2 separate regions of the Homo sapiens genome follow, and region 1 is linked to region 2. The links come from fine-mapping of genetic effects on gene expression. A gene starts in region 2. The other region holds a variant in brackets. All regions are shown on one strand. Distances are from middle to middle.

Region 1 (9,654 bases), 52 kb before region 2:
ATTTTCAGGGTTGGCTATTGTGTTGCATTAGATCCCCGAATCACAAAATGGATCAATGGCTCAAAAGCATGGAAGTTGTGATTAAAAACTAATCTAATTGCTACAATTTACAATAATGTCATCAAAGTCAATATTGACTTTTAAATATTGAGCCCAGTGCACGTATAGTATAGACATGCATACCGGAATAAGTGATTGTGAGCCAAAACCCGAAAATATCTAGAAGGTATTATACTCCCTGACAGGTAGGTTGTATTGGTTCTGACATGTATTTGTCCCTAGTGTGCTGCCCATTCTGAAACTTTATCAAACAGTCGCATGAACCTCTGAAAGCTTTTGTGTTATTTTCTTATTTATTTATTTATTGAGATGGAGTCTTGCTCTGTCGCCCAGGCTGGAGTGCAGTGGCATCATCTTGGCTCACTGCAACCTTTGCCTCCTGGGTTCAAGTGATTCTCCTGCCTCAGCCTCTTGAGTAGCTGGGATTACAGGCGCGCACCACCACGCCCAGCTAATTTTTGTATTTTTAGTATAGACGGGGGTTTCACCATGTTGGTCAGGCTGGTCTCGAACCCCTGACCTCATGATCTGCCTGCCTCAGGTAAAGCAATAGAGATTTCTTAGAACAACTGCTACATGTAGCTTTCCTATTCAAAAGTGATTAGTGTTGTCACCGAATACAGAGGAGACAGCAAAACCACAGTGACATAAATCAAAGGTGCTTTTTAAAGTAGCAAAAGTAGGTACAAGTCACATAATTTCCAAGAAGCTTGTAGAAATGGCAGTAGAGTTCATACCTGTATTGAAAGGTTGCTTTTGGCTGCAAATAATAGAAAAAAACAAAAGCATGTAAGAGCAGACAGAAGACCTTTACTCTGCAAGAGGTTCAGGTGCAGGTTAGTGTTTAATGCAGAGTCTCAGCATTGACAGATTCTTTCTGATCTTCCAATTGATCGTCCTTGCGGGGGCGGTTTAGTTCTTTCCCACTGACTAGGATTGGGTCAAATTCCATCCCCTTGGTTGCATGCAGTGCTGAGAAGGTGAGCATGTGCTTTTCACAGGCTTAATAAAAAGAGGTAGCTCCAGCCAGGTGCAGTGACTCATGCCTATAATCTCAGCACTTTGGGAGGCAGAGGTGGGTAGGTCACCTGAGGTCAGGAGATTGAGACCAGCCTGACCAACATGGCAAAACTCTGTCTCTACCGAAAATACAAAAATTAGCTGGGCATGGTGGCAGGTGCCTGTAATCCCAGCTACTTGGGAGGCTGAGGCAGGAGAATCGCTTGAACCTGAGAGGTGGAAGTTACAGTGAGCTGAGGTCATGCCACTGCACTCCAGCCTGGGGGACAGAGTAGAACTCTGTCTCAACAAAAAAAAAAAAAAAAAGAGAAAAAAAAAGGAGGGTAGCTCCACCAGCCAGGAAGGTGGCAGCGCTGGTGGCTGTTGGATAGGCTACCTACAGTGTCTGGCAAATACTATGCTTGAAGACTATGCTGTGAGCAAGATTCCTTTGTGAAGGAACAGCTTGGACATTGTGTATGTCAGAGGTATACAGCAGAATAGCAGTGACTAACGCTTGTGTGGGAGAGCAAGCATGTCACCTCATACTTGGAATAAGTCACTGCCATACAAAGTCTGAATCAGCTTTCATCTTTGTGCAACACATGTATGTGGGAGCTTTTCAGCTGCTGAAACCTCTAGTGACAGAAAAGGAGGTTTTGTTGTTCATTTGTAATTAATGTTAATCCTATGAGTGGTGGGAGAGATAGTGAGGTAGGAGATCAGCAGGACCTGTTTTCTGGTCACAACCCAGCTAATCAGAGCATGATCTGGTCAAGATGGGATGCACTAAAAAAACAGCCCAAACCAGCAGATGGCCAGGAAAGCAAACTCTCATTACCCTCGCCACTTATTAGCATAAAGACACTCCCACCGGTGCCATGACAGTTTACAAATGCCATGGAAACACACCATAGCAACGGTCAGCAAGTTACCTCATATGGTTCTGGAAACTCCCCACACCTTTTCCAGATAGTTCTGAATAACCCACCCCTTAATTTGCATGTAATTAAAAGTCGGTATAAGTACAGTTAGCCAGCAGCCCACTGGCTGCTACTGTGGGCTCACTGCCTATGGGTTGTCCTGCTCTGCAAGGAACAGCTACCTTGCTGCCACTGCTGCTTCAATAAACCTGCTTTCTTCCACCACAGGCTCGCTCTTCAGTTCTTTCCTGAGCAAAGTTAAGAACCCTCCCGGGCTAAGCCCCAATTTTGGAGCTTGCCTGCCCTGCATCAGTAGAATGGGCTAACTACTTATGGTGCACTCAGGCTAAAGAGGCTGATGCTTGCAGGGCAGTATTCACAGAGCACACGGTAGTTCACGGGATGCCTCTCACCCTTGACTCAGTGCTTAAGAAAGGAGGGAAAATGGTGAACATGATCAAATCATGGCCATTGCCTATTCATCTTTTCAGTGTTGTATGGAGGAATAGGCAAGTAGGAGATTGCTTTTCACATTAATGTCAAAGAGAAAGATAGTTACTTGGAACTTAAAAAAATTAATTGTGATAAAATATACATAACATAAAATTTACCATCTTAACCATTTTTAAGTATAGCCAATCTCAAGAGCTCTTTCTATCTTGTAAAACTGAAACCCTATACCCATTAAACAACTCCCAATTCTCCCCTTTCCCTAACTCCTGGCAACCACAATTCTTTCTGTCTCTATGAATTTGACTGCTTTGGCATGTCATAGAAATAGACTCATACAGCATTTGTCTTTTTGCGACTGGCATATTTTGCTTAGCATAATGTCCTCAAGGTTCACCCATGTGGTAGCATGTGTCAGAATTCCTCTCCTTTTGAAGGCTGAATAATATTCCATTGTGTGTATATACCACGTTTTGTTTATCCATTTGCCCATCAATGGGCATTTGGGTTGCTTTTTTTGCCTCTCATGAATGATGAATATGGGCGCACAAATATCTCTTCAAGACCATGCTTTCAATTCTCTTGGGTATACACCCAGAAGTGGAATTGCTGAATCATATGGTAATTTTTTTTTTTTTTTGAGACAGAATCTTGCTCTGTTGCCCAGGCTGGAGTGCAGTGGCACAATCAGAGCTCACTGCAGCCTTGGTCTTCTGGGCTCAAGCGATCCTCTTGCTTCAGCCTTCCGAGCTTCTGGGACTAAAGGTGTGTGCCATCATGCCTGGCTAATGTTTTAAAAACGTTGCCAGGCATGGTGGCTCGTGCTTGTAATCCTAGCACTTTGGGAAGCTGAGGCAGGTGGATCCCCTGAGGTCAGGAGTTTGAGACCAGCCTTGCCAACATGGTGAAATCCCGCCTGTACTAAAAATACAAAAATTAGCTGGGTGTGGTGGCATGTGCCTGTAGTTCCAGCTACAGGCAGGAGAATTGCTGGAACCTGGGTGGCAGAGGCTGCAGTGAGCCGAGATTGCACCACTGCACTCCAGCCTGAGTGACAGAGTGAGACTCTGTCTCAAAAAAAAAAAAAATTTTAGAGATGGTGTCTCACTGTGTTGCCCAGGCTGGTCTTGAACTCCTGCCCTAAAGTGATCCTCCTGCTTCCGCCTCCCAAAGTGCTGGGATTACAGGCATTAGCCACCATGCCTGGCCTAGCTAAATTGTCTTTAATGTCGCATGTCTGCAAAAAACACATCTATAAAGCTAGAAAAGTTGAGCATCCAACTTTTTATGATTTAACTCTCATGACCTGGCAATTTTTCTAGCAAGGAGCCTGGGCTGGTGGTTTTAGGAGAACTGAGTGAAAAAAAGAAATACATTAACTAGATTGGATGCAAAGTGCCTGCTGGTCATGGGTGTTTTCTGCTGGCCCCTGTTCATCTGTGCCTGTTAGCCCACCCATGGGTGAGTGGGGCAAAGTGGCCAAACTGATTCTTAAGAGAGGCATACATGCAGAATCCAAGTTAGTCATGATTTCGTTTCTAGTCTGAGTGAATGTGTGTCCAGAATATTTTATAAACTTTATCAGCTCAGAGGGGAAAACCTGTCTCCATACTACGTGGTTTATACAAAGCTGTCAGGAATTCAGCATGATGAAGAAATGCACAAAACAAGTGTGAACAGATAAGTAAAAGGATCTACTGAAAATCTTCAGGGTAGTATATTGTGTGACAGGACCAAGAATTTGAAGTCAACATCTGTATTTGTGCCCTCTGGACAAAGGTATTATCCCTGATGATATAAAAATTAATTTTGGGCTGGGTGTGGTGGCTCATGCCTGTAATCCCAGCACTTTGGGAGGCTGAGGAGGGTGAATCGACTGACGTCAGGAGTTGGAGGCCAGCCTGTATCGACTAATAATACAAAAAAATTAGCTGGACATGGTGGCGTGCACCTGTAATCCCAGCTACTCAGGAGGCTGAGGTGGGAGAATTGCTTGAACTCGGGAGGCCGAGGTTGCAGTGAGTCGCACCACTGCACTCTAGCCTGGGCGACAGAGTGAGACTCCGTCTCAAAAAAAACAAAATTAATTTCGAGGCCAGGTGCAGTGGCTCCAGGTGCGGTGGTTCATACCTGTAATTCCAGTGCTTTAGGAGGCCAGAGGATTGCTTGAACCCAAGAGTTCGAGATCAACCTGGGCAACATAGTGAGACTCCATCTGTAGAAAACAAACAAACAAACAAACAACAACAACAAAAAAACCAGAGGTGGGAGGATCACTTGAGCCCAGGAGTCCGAGGCTGCAGTGAGCTATGGTCACGCCACTGCCCTCTAGCTTGGGCAACAGTGCCAGACTCTGTCTCTTAACAACAACAACAACAAAAATTAATTCTACTTTAACTGTCAGTTTCATGATATCCTTCTATTAAGAAAAACCTTTTCTATCTGATGAACTATTGGCTAGGTTTTCTTTCTCTCTGCTTTTGACTAATGCATTTAATTACTTTCATTTGCAAACTCTATCCTTCTCATCAACTTTGTATTTTAGATGTGTCTATTGACAGCCTGGCTTCCCTCAGCGATCATTATGATGATCAAAGTAGATGAATAGGTAAAATTCAATGCAAATATTCCAGGGCATCTAATCCATACCCCAAATGGAAAAGGGGAGAATTGGAAGCCAGCAATTTGAACACATTACTATGGATGTATTTTTCTCATGCGGGGGAAAAAGTGATTTGGAGAGAGAGAATTATGAATGCATGTGAAGAATAAAGCCAAATTTCCTGGGAGGAGGGGAAGACCAGGAGAAACAAAACCAAATCCTGGCTGTGGCCTCTAAGGCATGGGGACCTGGAGTTATGCTCTCCAGGCAGACACAGCTCATTCTGGAGAAAGGCTGCAAAAATATTCTCCTTCACATTGATTTGAAAACAATTATTAAATTCTTGTTTTCTTATTTATCTAAGTGTAACTTTTTAAAACTTACTGAGAGAAGACGGGCACGGTGGCTCACTGCTGTAATCCAGTACTTTGGGAAGTCAAGGCAGGTGGATCACCTATGGTCAGGAGTTCGAGACCAGCCTGGCCAATATGGCAAAACCCCGTCTCTACTAAAAATACAAAAATTAGTCAGGTGTGGTGGTGTGTGCCTGTAATCCCAGCTACTCGGGAGGCTCAGACAGGAGAATCACTTGAACCTGGGAGGCAGAGGTTGCAATGAGCTGAGATTGCACCACTGCACTCCAGCCTGGGCGACAGAGCAGGACTCCATCTCAAAATAAAAATTAATTGATTAATTAATTAAAAATTTACTGAGAGCTGGTGGTTCCTTTAAGGGTGGAGCCGCCATCAAGTCCCCAGAGGATGCCCTGAATTTGGGGGCATCACCTTCAGCTGCTGTGGACTCTGAGCCTTGGCAGCTCCAGCTCCAGGCCTGGGAGAAAGATGATTTCCTGGCAG[C/T]GTGCAGTGATTGTGAGCATTTGACTACCTTACTGCATTTTGCCCTTATCATTGCTCTCCAAACATGAGTGGAAAACAAAAAATTTTGCTGAGACAAGCGATAATACGAGTTAGGGAAAGTTGGAGAATTTTATAGTTGCTGATATCAGCAAATCGTGAGTTTCAAGCACTACTTACAGAAGGAAGTCCAAAATTAAAGGGGATATAGAAATGTGTAAAAGATGAGGTGTGGTGAAGATGGAGAAAATGAAGAGCTCTTTAAATTTCTGAATTATGAAGAATCACCAACAAATTATTTTGTGGTTCCAAATACAGGGAGAAGTTCACAGATCCACAGAACTGATGACAGGGTGCGGCCAGCCACAAACCTTTCAGCACAAGAGGGAGAAGGCTGCCGCTCCACTTTGCCTGGGCAGTCTTTGTAAGGCAGTAGATAAGTCAGCCTCGAAGTTAGCAATCACAGCCCTCGGCTCGGTTTCCTGCAAGGGCATCGTTAATGCATCACAATTAATTTCTTCTGTCCATTAAATGTCAGCTCTCAAGTAAATTGATGTAAAATTTTTGTATAGAAAACTATTTCATATTATTTGCACTTGATGTTTAATTACATTTTAAATGTTTTGTTTGTTTCATTTTGTTTTGTTTTTGAGACAGAGTCTTGCTCTGTTGCCCACGCTGGAATGCAGTGGTGTGATCTTGACTCACTGCAACCTCTGCCTCCTGGGTTTAAGCGATTCTCCTGCCTCAGCTTCCTGAGTAGCTGGGATTACAGGCGTGCACCACCATGCCTGGCTAATCTTTGTATTTTTAGTAGAGATGGGGTTTCACCATGTTGGCCAGGCTGGTCCCGAACTCCTGACCTCAAGCTATACACCTGCCTCAGCCTCCCAAAGTGCTGGAATTACAGACATAAGCCACTGTGCCCAGCCAAATGTTTTAAATAATTGTCACATATATATACAAAATAATTTATGTTATAGGTAGGGATCTTGTTATATTTTAACCTTCAAAGTATATTCCTAAGCTTTTTATTTATTTTTTATTTTTTATTTATTGAGACAGTCTTGCTCTGTCGCCCAGGCTGGAGTGCAGTGGCGCAATCTTGACTCACTGCAAACTCTACCTCCTGGGTTCAAGCGATTCTCCTGCCTCAGCCTCCTGAGTAGCTGGGATTACAGGTGCGCACCACCATGCCCAGCTAATTTTTGTATTTTTAGTAGAGACGGGGTTTCACCATATTGGCCAGAGCTGGTCTCAAACTCCTGACCTCAGGTGATCCATCCACCTCAGCCTCTCAAAGTGCTGGGATTATAGGTGTGAGCCACTGCGCCTGGCCTATTCCTAGCCTTTTATATATAGACCTTTTTCTTTTTCACATTTTAAAGGAACTTTTATGTTTAATCATGGAATATTTCAAACATACAGAAAAATCACAGAAAATAAATAACAACCACTCATTTATCTTCTCCCCAACCCCATGTAATAAATATTAAAATATTGTGTTAAATGCTAAATTTAACACATGCTAAAGGTTCCTGGCTGGATGTGGTGGCTCACGCCTGTAATCCCAGTACTTTGGGAGGAGGAGGTGGGAGGATTGCTTGAGTCCAGGAGCTCGAGACCAGCATGGGCAACATAGTGCGATCTCGTCTCTACAAAAAACAAAAAAATTAGCTGGGCATGGTGGTGTGCATCAGTAATCCCAGTGACTGGGAGGCTGAGGTGGGAGAATTGCTTGAGTCTGGGAATTTGAGGCTGCAGTGAGCCCTGATCATGCCACTGCATTCCAGCATGGGCGACATAGCAAAACTTGTCAAAAAAAAAAAAAGTTTCCTCTCTGCCCCACCATAGACAACCACTCTTCTGATTTCTATCTTCGTAGATGAATTTTGCCCATTCTCTTGTATATGAAAGGAACCAGACATTAGGCATTCTGGTGTCTGGTTTCTTTCACTTAAGATAAAATTGAGTTAACCTGTATTGTTGTACAGAACTGCAGTTTGTTCTTTGTTATTTATTGTAAAGACAGGGTCTGGCTATGTTGCCTAGGCTGGTCTCGAACTGTTGGCCTCAAGCAATCCACCTGCCAAGCTCTGGGACCACAGGCATGAGCCATGGCATCTGATCTGTAGTTTGATCTTATTTCTTGCTGAGTAGTAGCCCATGGCATGACTTTATTATTTTGGGTGTCCATTCTCCTCTGGAGGGGCTCTGCTTTTTGAAACCACACCCTGGCCTAGCTCCCCTTCTCCCTGCCTCTCTGCCGGCTCACATCCACATGCCAAGACCTCTGCAGCCATTCTGCTTCCTGTCCTTCCACTCCTGTGGGACCTCAGAGAGCTACGGGGCTCCCTGGGTACCAACTGGCTCCTGAGGCCTGGGGGAGGGTGGTCTTCTGGGAGAAGGAAGCCAGGTCCCTGCAGGTTGTGGAGGGGGACAGAATGAGGGTTTTTCCCCAGGGTGTTGTTGGCCCCTGCCCCCACTTCTGTTCCATAATTAACCACGCCCCTCCTACCCACTGTGCCCCTCTTCCTGCTGTGTGGAGGCCCTGAATCATTATTTTAACTACCCCCTGGGAGGGTGAGCACCTTCTGTGCTCTGTCCCCAACCTTCCACTTCCCCTCAACGCGCTGCTCAGGGATGACCTTCGGCACTGTGCTTCTTCTGAGTGGTAAGTGGGGCCAGGGTGCTGGGGAGAAGCTTGGAGGAGTTCTGAGGGGACTCCATCTGGGAGGGCAGGCTGGGGGCTGGTGGTCGGCTCCAACCACTCTTATGAGGAGCTGAGGCAGGGGAGTGCTTCATGTGCGAGTGGCCCGGAGTCAGTAGAGTGTGACCTGAATGAAGAGGGGCTCAGGGGCTGTGCTCAGGTGGCGACTAAGCTACCTCTCCAGCTGGCTATGTTGTCCCAGGCTTCCCTGCTCCCACTCATGGAGTCCCTGGTGTGGGTGACAGAGGTCTCCCCAGCCTCCCCCGGGAGTGGAAGGCCACAGAAGCCACCAGGGAGGGGGAAAGGTTGGACATCACCTCCCTGGGCCTGTTTCCCCCAAGTCCTGACTGCACGTAGGGAAGAGGCCCCCTGCTGAAAACTGCATCAGAGTCACATTCACGTGCCATCAAAAATCAGGCTTGGCTGGGTGCGGTGGCTCATGCTTATAATCCCAGCACTTTGGGAGGCCGAGATGGGCGTATCCCCTGAGGTCAGGAGTTTGTGACCAGCCTGGCCAACATGGTGAAACCCCATCTTTACCAAAAATATAAAAATTAGCCGGGCATGGTGGCGTGCACTTGTAATCCCAGCTACTTGGGAAGCTGAGGCAAGAGAATCGCTTGAACCCAGGAGACGGAAGTTGCAGTGAGCTGAGATCGTGCCGTTGCACTCCAGCCTCAGCAACAGAGCGAGACTCCATCTCAAAAAAAAAAAAAAAAAAAAGAAAAAAAAGAAAAAGAGGCTGGGAGGTCCTAGGGATTGGGGCTTCTTTAACTCCCAGCCTCCCCGCCCACCAAATATTCCTCAGTCCTGGCTTCTTATCATGGATTCAACCTGGATGTGGAGGAGCCTACGATCTTCCAGGAGGATGCAGGCGGCTTTGGGCAGAGCGTGGTGCAGTTCGGTGGATCTCGGTAGGCCCCACTCACCCTCCTTCCCCAACCTCCACTACATCAAGTCCTGTGGATGGGTACACGTGGGTTACCCCAGGGAGGTGTCCTGGAGGAAGGCCAGCAGGGGTGAGAAGTCTTCCCTTGGCTCCTTGGAGGCCCTGAC
Region 2 (9,654 bases):
CCCAGAGCCATCATTCTCTCTAGAGGGAGAGAAAACCACAGAAAAATTTTACTACAAACTGCAAAGGAGACTTTGCTTTCAGAATCCTGTAATCAATGCTTCTTTATTACTATTTTACTTTTTCTTTCCTTCTTTTTTTTTTTTTTTTTTTTTTTTAAGACAGGGTCTATTTCTGTTGCCCAGGCTGGAATGCAGTAGTACGATCTCTGATCACTGCAACCTTTGCCTCTCTGGCTCAAGTGATCCTCCCGCTTCAGTCTCTCAAGTAGCTGGGACTGTAGTTGCACACCACTAGGCCCAGCATTTTTTTTTTTTTTTTTGGTAGAAGCTGGTTTTTATCATGTTGCCCAAGCTGCTCTCAAACTCCTGGGCTCAAGCGGTTGGCCCACCTGGGCCACCCAAAGTGCTGGGATTGCAAGCATGAGCTACCATGCCCGGCCTCCTATAATCAATGTTTTTTTTTTTTTTTTTTTGAGAGGGAGTCTTGCTCTGTCACCCAGGCTGGAGTGCAGTGGTGCTAGCTATGTCGGCTCACTGCAACCTCTGCCACCCGGGTTCAAGCGATTCTCCTGCCTCAGCCTCCCGAGTAGCTGGGATTACAGGCGCCTGCCACCATTGCCGGCTAATTTTTTTTTGTATTTTAGTAGAGACAGGATTTCACCATGTTGGTCAGGCTGGTCTCAAACTCCTGACCTCATGATCCACCCACCTTAGCCTCCCAAAGTGCTGGGATTACAGGTGTGAGCCACTGCACATGGCCAATCAATGCTTCTTAATAGTAAGATTTATTTTAAAATTTGGATTGGGGTTATAAGACTTTCAGTAGTCTTGGATATTACCATCTTTATCCTGAATGAAAGTGTAGCAAGAGGCTGGGCGCAGTGGCTCATGCCTATAATCCTAGCACTTTGGGAGGCTGAGGCCAGAGGATCCTTGAGCCCAGGAGACTAACCTGGGCAACAAAGCAAGACCCTGTCTGTATTAAAATTACAAAAGCGTGGTAAGGATCATTTCCTCATTAACCTTGAACATCCAAACACAAACCATCAAAAAGAATCAACTTCAGAAAGACATTATTGCTTTATTGGTTAAGGTGATTAAAAGAAGGGGGCCCCTCAGGCCACAAAGATAATTAACTGATTGTCACAAACCATATTGAAACTCTTTTTTAAAAAGGGTATAGATAACTTTTAATTTACAATTTTAACAATCAAAGTAGCCAAGAGTAGAGTTTGCAATAGGACTAGAAAGTATTCCAGTGGCTCATATATAAGTGGGCTAATTTTATCTATTTTTAGGCCTATTAGGCCTGTCAGTCTGGATTTTCCATTACTTGGAAATGGGGACTGGGGAACAGATGCTTCTGGCCACTCTGAGCCCTGGCTTGATCCTTGGGTCTCATCTCTCTCTCTCTCCCCGTTTGTGCTTCACCTCTCAGCGGATACTTGGCTCTTATCTCAGGACCTGACCTCCCACTGAGCTCCAAGCCTGCAAAGCATGCTGCCACCCAGTTATTTCCCCCTTAACATCCTGCCATCACTTCAAATTTAATACCCCTATGCCAAAAAATCACTGACTCCTAATTTCACTTTTGTTGGTGGCACCAGTTTTATTCTCTTGGACACCTAAGCTCAAAAACAGTGGAACTTCTTTTGACTCATCGCTCTCCTTCCTTCCCTAGAAGTGAGCTACCATTTAAAAGTGATGTGCTCATTCTCAGCAAACTATCCCAAGGACAAAAAAATAAACACCGCATGTTCCCACTCATAGGTGGGAATTGAACAATGAGAACACATGGACACAGGAAGGGGGACATCACACACCGGGGCCTGTTGTGGGGTGGGGGGAGGGGGGAGGGATAGCATTAGCAGATATACCTAATGTAAATGACGAGTTAATGGGTGCAGCACACCAACATGGCACATGTATACATATGTAACAAACCTGCACGTTGTGCACATGTACCCTAGAACTTAAAAGTATAATGATACAAAAAAAGTGATGTGCTATCATCAGTCACCCGAGAAATGCAAATTAAAACCACAAGGAGTGCCCTTATGCACCCACTAAAATCGAGCAGACTGAAGGTGCTAACTGTTGCCTGAGGATATGGAGTCTCACACATTGCTGGGGAAATATAAAATGGCCTGGGCATTTTGGAAACCAGTTTTGGTTAACAGTAAATTAAATGTACACTTACCACATGACTCAATAATTCTACTCTTAGGATTTACTCAAGGAAAATAAAAACATATGTCCACACAAAGACTTTTTCACAAATGTGCATATCAGCTTTATTCATAATAGGCATAAGATAGAAACATCCAAATGTCCATCAATGGGTGGAAGAATAAAGTGTGGTTTACCCATGTAACAGAATACTAGCAACAAAGAGGAACTGCTGTTACCTGCAAGCAATGGATGAATCTCAAAATTATGTTAAACCAGAGAAGCCAGACACAAGAGAATACATACTATATGATTCAATTTCTGTGAAATTCCATTTCTACAAAAAGCAAAACTTACTCATAGGGGCAGAAAGTAGACCAGTGGTTCTCTGGGGCTGGGTCAGGGAGAGAGCAGCTGACTGCACGGGGCATGAGAGGGTGACGGCAAAGTTCTGCACCCTGAATGTGATGATGGTTATGCCCGTGTACACATTCACCAAAAACCAGCAACCTGTACACTTAAAGTGGGTGTGTTTTATATATAACTTATACTTCAGTAAGTGTCAGCACAGATAGGCTAAGCCTCTTCTGAGATGTAACACAGGTAGACAGGAGTATCAGTGCTGACTGGCCAACTATCTTTAAAATATTTTATTAAGCTATAAATAATACGGAGTTGAAATAGCCAGGACTTACAGTGTACTTACTACATGCCAGGTACTATTCTAAGAGTTTCCACATATTGGTTAGACCTCACAACAACTCTCCAAGATACTAACGATTACCCCATTTTATAGATGAAGAAACTGAGGCATAGAAAGTTTAAGTAATTTAGAAAAGCCATATATACGGTAAAAAAATTTTTGGCTCCAGGGAGCTTCCTCTGAACTACTATGCCACAATACTTCTCATTAGGACAATTTTGAAATAGACACACTCCTTCCTCCATAATTTCATCTCCTCTACAAAAAATATTTTCACGTTTGCATATTTTATTCAGGCTTTGCCAACATGCATATGCATTTTAACTACTCCATAATCATAGTTTAGACACAGAGCAAGAGGAAGCCATTCCAAGCAACAGACGAGTCTAATTTTGCTCTCTGAAAAATAAGCATTTTTTTAACTTATGAACATTTCTCATTCATTCACATTCTTTCATAATGATCTATTTTAATGGCTTTGTTTGAAATACCATATTATATTGTATTCATTTCCTTTATTATTGGAATAGATCATTAGTAGAGATAATGCTGTAATGAGCATCTTCATGGAATGCACAGAGCTTATTTTTTTTCCATGTGGAATCTTTTATGTAGGAATCATTCCCAGGAGCGCAGCTGCTGCCCCATATAAGAAAGGGCCTCTGGCCTCGATAAAGCAGCAGCTCTTATACCAGTATGAATGAGCTACTGTCCAATTTGCTAGTGCCTGAGACTGGTCCAGACTCCAGCCCATTCATGGTCTTGAGGGCCCTAGGAAGACCACAGCAATTCCCGCAGCTCTCCTTTGGGAGTCAGGGGGACCTGTTACCGAAATCAGTCCTTGTGCCAATTAAAAGTACCACAGGCTGCCAGAAATTTCCATCTAGTTTTCTACTATCACTCAACATTCTTCCTGTGACTATAACTCCTCTCTTACATTCCCTGTCATCAGCCTTGCCCAGGCTTTCCTAATCTCTTCCCTAGATGAGTGTGTTTTCCAGTTGGCCTTTTGTGATTTGATTCCCCTCTCTTCCAATGGATGATCTGACACAAGGGCTGTCAAGCATGCTTGTTACTGTAGGGCAGTGCTTACTGTTTTCACAGCATGGAACCCACAGAAAATGTTACAATATGAGTAACTCACAGGGATAAAGGGTTGAGATTGCTCCCTACTGAAGGTGCCCGGCCCAGTGCTTCGGGCCACCCTAGGCCCTACCTACCTTCCTCAGGGGTTAAAGCAGTGGTTCTCAGTGCTAGCTGCACATTAGGATTACCTGGGAGCTTTCAAAATTATTTTGCCTGTGCTGCACCCAGGAGTAACAACATACAGCCAAGGTTAAGAACCTTTTTAGCTAAATGGTTATCTGTTTATCCTCAGTTACCGCCACAGCTTATCCTTCTACTACAGTGCCTCCTGAGTAATGGGCACACCGTACAGTATTATTATTGATTATTATTAGTATTAGAGACAGGCTCTCCCTCTATCATCCAGGCTGGAGTGCAGTGGCACCATCATGGCTCACTGCAGCCTCGACCTCCTGGGCTCAAGCGGTCCTCCCTCAGCCTCCTGAGTAGCTGGGATCACAGGTGTGCACCACCACACCTGGCTAATTTTTTTTTTTTAAATAATTAGTGTAGACAGGATCTCATTGTTGCCTACGCTACTCTCCAACTCTTGGGCTCAAGCGATCCTCCCGCCTTGGCTTCCCGAAGTGCTGGGATTACAGACGTGAGCCGCAGCGCCCGGCAGAATACAGAAGTAATAAACTAAGGTCAAGGCCATGTACTGAGGTGTTCAAGGCTCTGAACTGCTGGACTCAATGTCACAAGATAAATTTTAACCTCACCAAACCCTCTCAGCTTAAGAGTATCTGCTAAGTTCTGAGAAAGCAAACGGGGCGTGTGAAAAGATGGGTGTTCATGCCTGTGTGTATGTGGGGTCGGTGATGCAGTTAAGGACAGAACCCAGGGGAGGACTCCGGGACGGGGGAGGCGGCTGAGATTTTAAGGCGGGCCGGGTGTGCTGCAGCCAGCACTGCCGGAGAATCGCTGGGAAACGGCTCCAGCAGGAGAATGGAGGGTGGACGGCCGGCCGCAAAGGCGGTGGAGGTGTTGGCCCGCCCCTTCCCTCCTGATAACACCGACGTGCGTGTGGGGTCCACGGAACGCCCCACCAAGCCTCGCCTGGCGCGGGGTCGAGGGGCTCGGCGGAGGCGCGTGTTCAGGTGGAGGCGGTGGGCCCGGGCTGCGGCCCTTCGCTCGATTTTATTTATTTATTTATTTATTTATTTATTTATTTTTGAGACGGAGTCTCGCTGTGTTCCCCAGGCTGGAGTGCAGTGGCGAGATCTCGGCTCATTGCAACCCCTGCCTCCCGGGTTCAAGCGATTCTCCTGCCTCAGCCTCCCGAGTAGCTGGGACCACAGGCGTCCGCCACCACGCCCGGCTAATTTTTGCATTTTTAGTAGAGAAGGGATTTCACTATATTGGCCACGCTGGTCTCGAACTCCTGACCTCGTGATCCGCCCGCCTCGGCCTCCCAAAGTGCTGGGATTACGGGCGTGAGCCACCGCGCCCGGCCCCTTCGCTCGCTCTTACCCGGTGAGGTCCCGTGCCCGCGTACCTCCCGCATGACACTTGGGCGTGCGGCCGAGCCGGGAGCGCCCCTGCCCCGCGAGCCGCCCCCGAGAGACACGGCGGATCGGAACCCAGCCGGGCGCGTAGCTCCGGGAAGGGGACGTGGCGAGGACCCGGCAGCCGCGGGGCCTGTGGGGAAACATGGTCCCCGCAAGGGACCCTGGGAGCTGGAGGCGTCCTGGCCCGGCGTCCGGAGCCCACGGCCCAGGACTAGGATGCCGGGGGTCTCGGGCGTCCTCCCTAACCTCAGTCATAGGGCGCTCCGTATCCAGCCCGCCCTGCTTGCCTCTCGCTTCCCCCAAATACTGCCCCGACCTGTCCCCTGGCCCTCACCAAGACAGGGAGAAACGACCGAGACACTGAGGACTCCGCTAACAGCTGCCTGAGACCCAACCCCTCCACTCCCTGACCAGGATGAGGGAGTCCGCGCCATGCGCATGCACACACGCGGGCCTCTCCTCCTCCCACCTTTTGCGCGTCTCGCCCGGGCATCGAAGGAAGGGAATGACGGCGCGACGGCGACCCCTAGGGGCGGGAGGAGGCGCTAGGAGCGGGGCTGGGAAGCGCCATGGTGCAGGTTGAACGGGGACATTGGGTCACCGGGATGGGTGGAATTAGGGTAGGGCGAGTGAGGCACTGGCTTCTGGCACAGAATTTAAGGAGACACCCCAAAATTTAGTAATCAGGATACACAGACTGAGCGCAGTGGCTCACGCCTGTAATCCCAACACTTTGGGAGGCCAAGGCGGGAGGACTGCTTGAGGCCAGGAGTTAGGGATCAGCCTGGGCAACAAAGCGAGACCCCCATCTCTACAAAAAAAAATTAAAATTTAGCCGGACTTGGTGGTGGGCGCCTGTGGTCCCAGCTACTCAGGATGCTTAAGTGGGAGGATCACTTGAGCCCAGGAGGTTGAAGGTGCAGTGAGCTATGGTGACACCTCTGCACTCCAGCCTGGGCAACAGAGCAAGACCATGTCTCTTAAAAAAAAAAAAAAAAAAAAAAAAAGCTAGACGCGGTGGCTCACGCCTGTAATCCCAGCACTTTGGGAGGGCAAGGGTAGTGGATCAGTTGAGGTCAGGAGTTCGAGACCAGCCTGGCCAACATGGTGAAACTAAAAATACAAAAATTATTCTACTAAAAATACAAAAATTAGCCGGGTATGGTGGTGCACACCTGTAATCCCAGCTACTTAGGAGACTGAGGCAGGAGAATCGCTTGAACCCAGGAGGCAGAGGTTGCAGTGTTGCAGAGGTTGCAGATCATGCCACTGCACTCCAGCCTGGGTGAAAGAGTGAAACCCTGTCTCAAAACAACAACAACAACAACAACAACAACAACAACAACAACAACCACCACCACCCAAAGTATATTATATGCACACCCTACTGAGTTTGATTCCTGGTTCCACCAGTTAATAGCTGTGGGAGTTTGGGCAGTTTGGTGAATCTAATCTCTGTATCTCAATTTCTTCATCTGTAACATGGCAATAATAACAGCACCTACTTACCTCATAAGGTTGCTGGGAAGATTCAAGGAGATAAGCCAAGTGAAGAGCTTAGCACAATGTCTGGCACATGGTGAGTGTTCAGTGAATGTTAGTCAGTTGGTGGCTATGGCAGCCATCTGCTGAGATAGTTCCCAGTGATCCTACTCCTGGTGTTCACACCCTTTTTAGTCCCTTCCCACAATGCACCAGGGTTGGTCTATGTGACCTGTGGAATACTATAGGAGTTTCTTTCTTTCTCTCTTTCTCTCATTCTCTTTCTTTCTTTCCTCTCTCTTTCTTTCTTTTTTTGACAGAGTCTTGCTCTATCACCCAGGCTGGAGTGCAGTGGCACGATCTCGGCTCACTGCAACCTCTGCCTCCTGGGTTCAAGTGATTCTCGTGCCTCAGCCTCCCAAGTAGCTGGGATTACACACACGGCCACCACACCTGGCTAAATTTTGTATTTTTAATAGAGATGGGGTTTTGCCATGTTGGCCAGGCTGGTCTCGAACTCCTGACCTTAGGTGATCCACCCACCTCAGCCTCCCAAAGTGCTGGGATTACATGCATGAGCCACCGTACCTGGCAAGAATTACTTATAATTAGGTTATAAAAGTCATGACAGTGAAAACCTCCCAACTTATTCTGAGGCCAGTATTACCCTACTATCAAAATCAGACAAAGACATCACAAGAAAACTAGAGACTAATATCTCTTATGAATATAGACATAAAAATCCTCAAGAAAATACCGGCAAATAAAATTCAGAAATATATAAAAAGGATAACCAGGTGGGATTTATCCCAGGAATGTACGGTTAGCTTAACTTATGAAAATAAATTAATACACTACATCAATACAATAAAGGAAAACATTATTATTTCAATTGGTGTAAAAACAGCATTTGACAAAATTCAGCACCCTTCATCATAAAAATACTCAGCAAACTAGGAATAGAAGGAAACTCAATTAACGTGATAAAGGGCATCTATGAAAAAACCCACTGCCAACATCATACTCAATGGTGAGAGAATAAAAGCTTTTCCTCTAAGATCAGAAACAAGAAAGGGATGCCCACTTTTGCCACATCTATTCAGCCTTGTACTGGAAGCTCTCACCAGTTCTTGCCTGGAAGCTCTTGCCATGAGGCAAGGAAAAATAAAAAGCAAGCAAATCAGAAAGGAAGAAGTAAAACTATCTCCATTTATAGATGAGGTGATTTTATAGAAAATCCTAAAGAATCTATGAAAAAAACTTTGTTAGAGCTAATAAACAAATTCTGCAAAGCTGTAACAACAAAATCAATACACAGAAGTCAGTTGTGTTTCTATACTCTTGATATATTCTATATTCTGGTGTAGTCTATTTTCTGCTGCTATAACCATGCCACAGATTGGGTAATTTATAAAGAAAGGAGATTTATTTGGCTCACAGTTCTGCAGTCTTAGAGGTCCAACAGCATGGCACCAGCATCAAGGGTCATCCATGGCAGAAGGTGAAAGTGCTTTGTATTAGTCTGTTTTCACACTGCTGTAAGGAACTACCTGAGACTGGGTAATTTATTTAAAAAAAAAAAAAAGAAAGAAAAAAAAAAAGAGGCCAGGCGCAGTGGCTCACGCCTGTAGTCCCAGCACTTTGGGAGGCAAGGTGGGCAGATCACTTGAGGTACGGAGTTTGAGACCAGCCTGGCCAACGGTAAAACCCTGTCTCTACAAAAAATTTAGCTGGCTATGGTGGCAGGCACCTGTAATCCCAGCTATTCAGGAGGCTGAGGCAGGATAATTGTTTGAACCTGGGAGGCAGAGGTTGCAGTGAGCTGAGACAGCGCCACTGCACTCCAGCTTCGGTGACAGATTGAAACTCGGTCTCAAAAAAAAAAAAAAAAAGTTTAATTGACTCACATGGCTGGGGAGGCCTCAGGAAACTTACAATAATGGCAGAAGGTGAAGGGGAAGCAAGGCACATCTTACATGGCAGCAGAAGAGAAAGGGAGAGCAAAGAGGAAGAGCCACACACTTATCAAACAACCAGATCTCCTGAGAATTCGATCACGAGAATAGCAAGGGGGAAGTCCGCCCCCATGATTCAGTCACCTCCCACCAGGCCATTCCCCCAACATGTGGGGATTACAATTTGAGACAAGATTTGGGTGGGGACACAGAGCCAAACCATATCAGGCATGCAATCTTGTGAGACGTGAGACACAGAGAGAAATAGCACTGAATTTATCCTTGTATCAGGAGCCTACCCCTGTGATAACTAACTCATTCCCATGATAATGGCATTAATCCACTCATGAGGACAGAACTTTCATGACTTAATCACCTCGTAAAGGCCTCATCTCTTAATATTGTTACAATGGCAATTAAATTTCAACATGAGTTGGAGGGGATGTTCAAACCATAGCACTCTCAATAAAAAATTATACAATAGGCAGGGCGAGGTAGTTCCCTCCTATAATCCCAGCACTTTGGGAAGCCAAGGTGGGCGGATTACCTGAGGCAAGGAGTTCGAGACCAGCCCAGCCAACATGGCAGAACACTGTCTCTACTAAAAATACAAAAATTAGCTGGGCATAGTGACACACACCTCTAATCCCAGCTACTCGAGAGGCTGAGGCACAAGAATCCCTTGAACCTGGGAGGCAGAGGTTGCAGT

Evidence for each region.
Region 1: its variant is fine-mapped to the expression of ZNF843 in thyroid (GTEx, PIP 0.93).

The regions. Positions count from the first base shown.
Region 1 is chr16:31,384,830-31,394,483 of GRCh38, forward strand. ITGAD (integrin subunit alpha D) reads left to right here and starts at 8,506. Exons shown (of 30, transcript NM_005353.3): 1 at 8,506-8,562; 2 at 9,407-9,512. The coding sequence starts at 8,532. The variant C/T (reference allele first, on the strand shown) is at 5,892.
Region 2 is chr16:31,437,166-31,446,819 of GRCh38, forward strand. ZNF843 (zinc finger protein 843) reads right to left here and starts at 5,624. Exons shown (of 2, transcript NM_001136509.3): 1 at 5,471-5,624; 2 at 1-19. RefSeq lists an enhancer at 5,251-6,046 and a silencer at 5,431-5,640.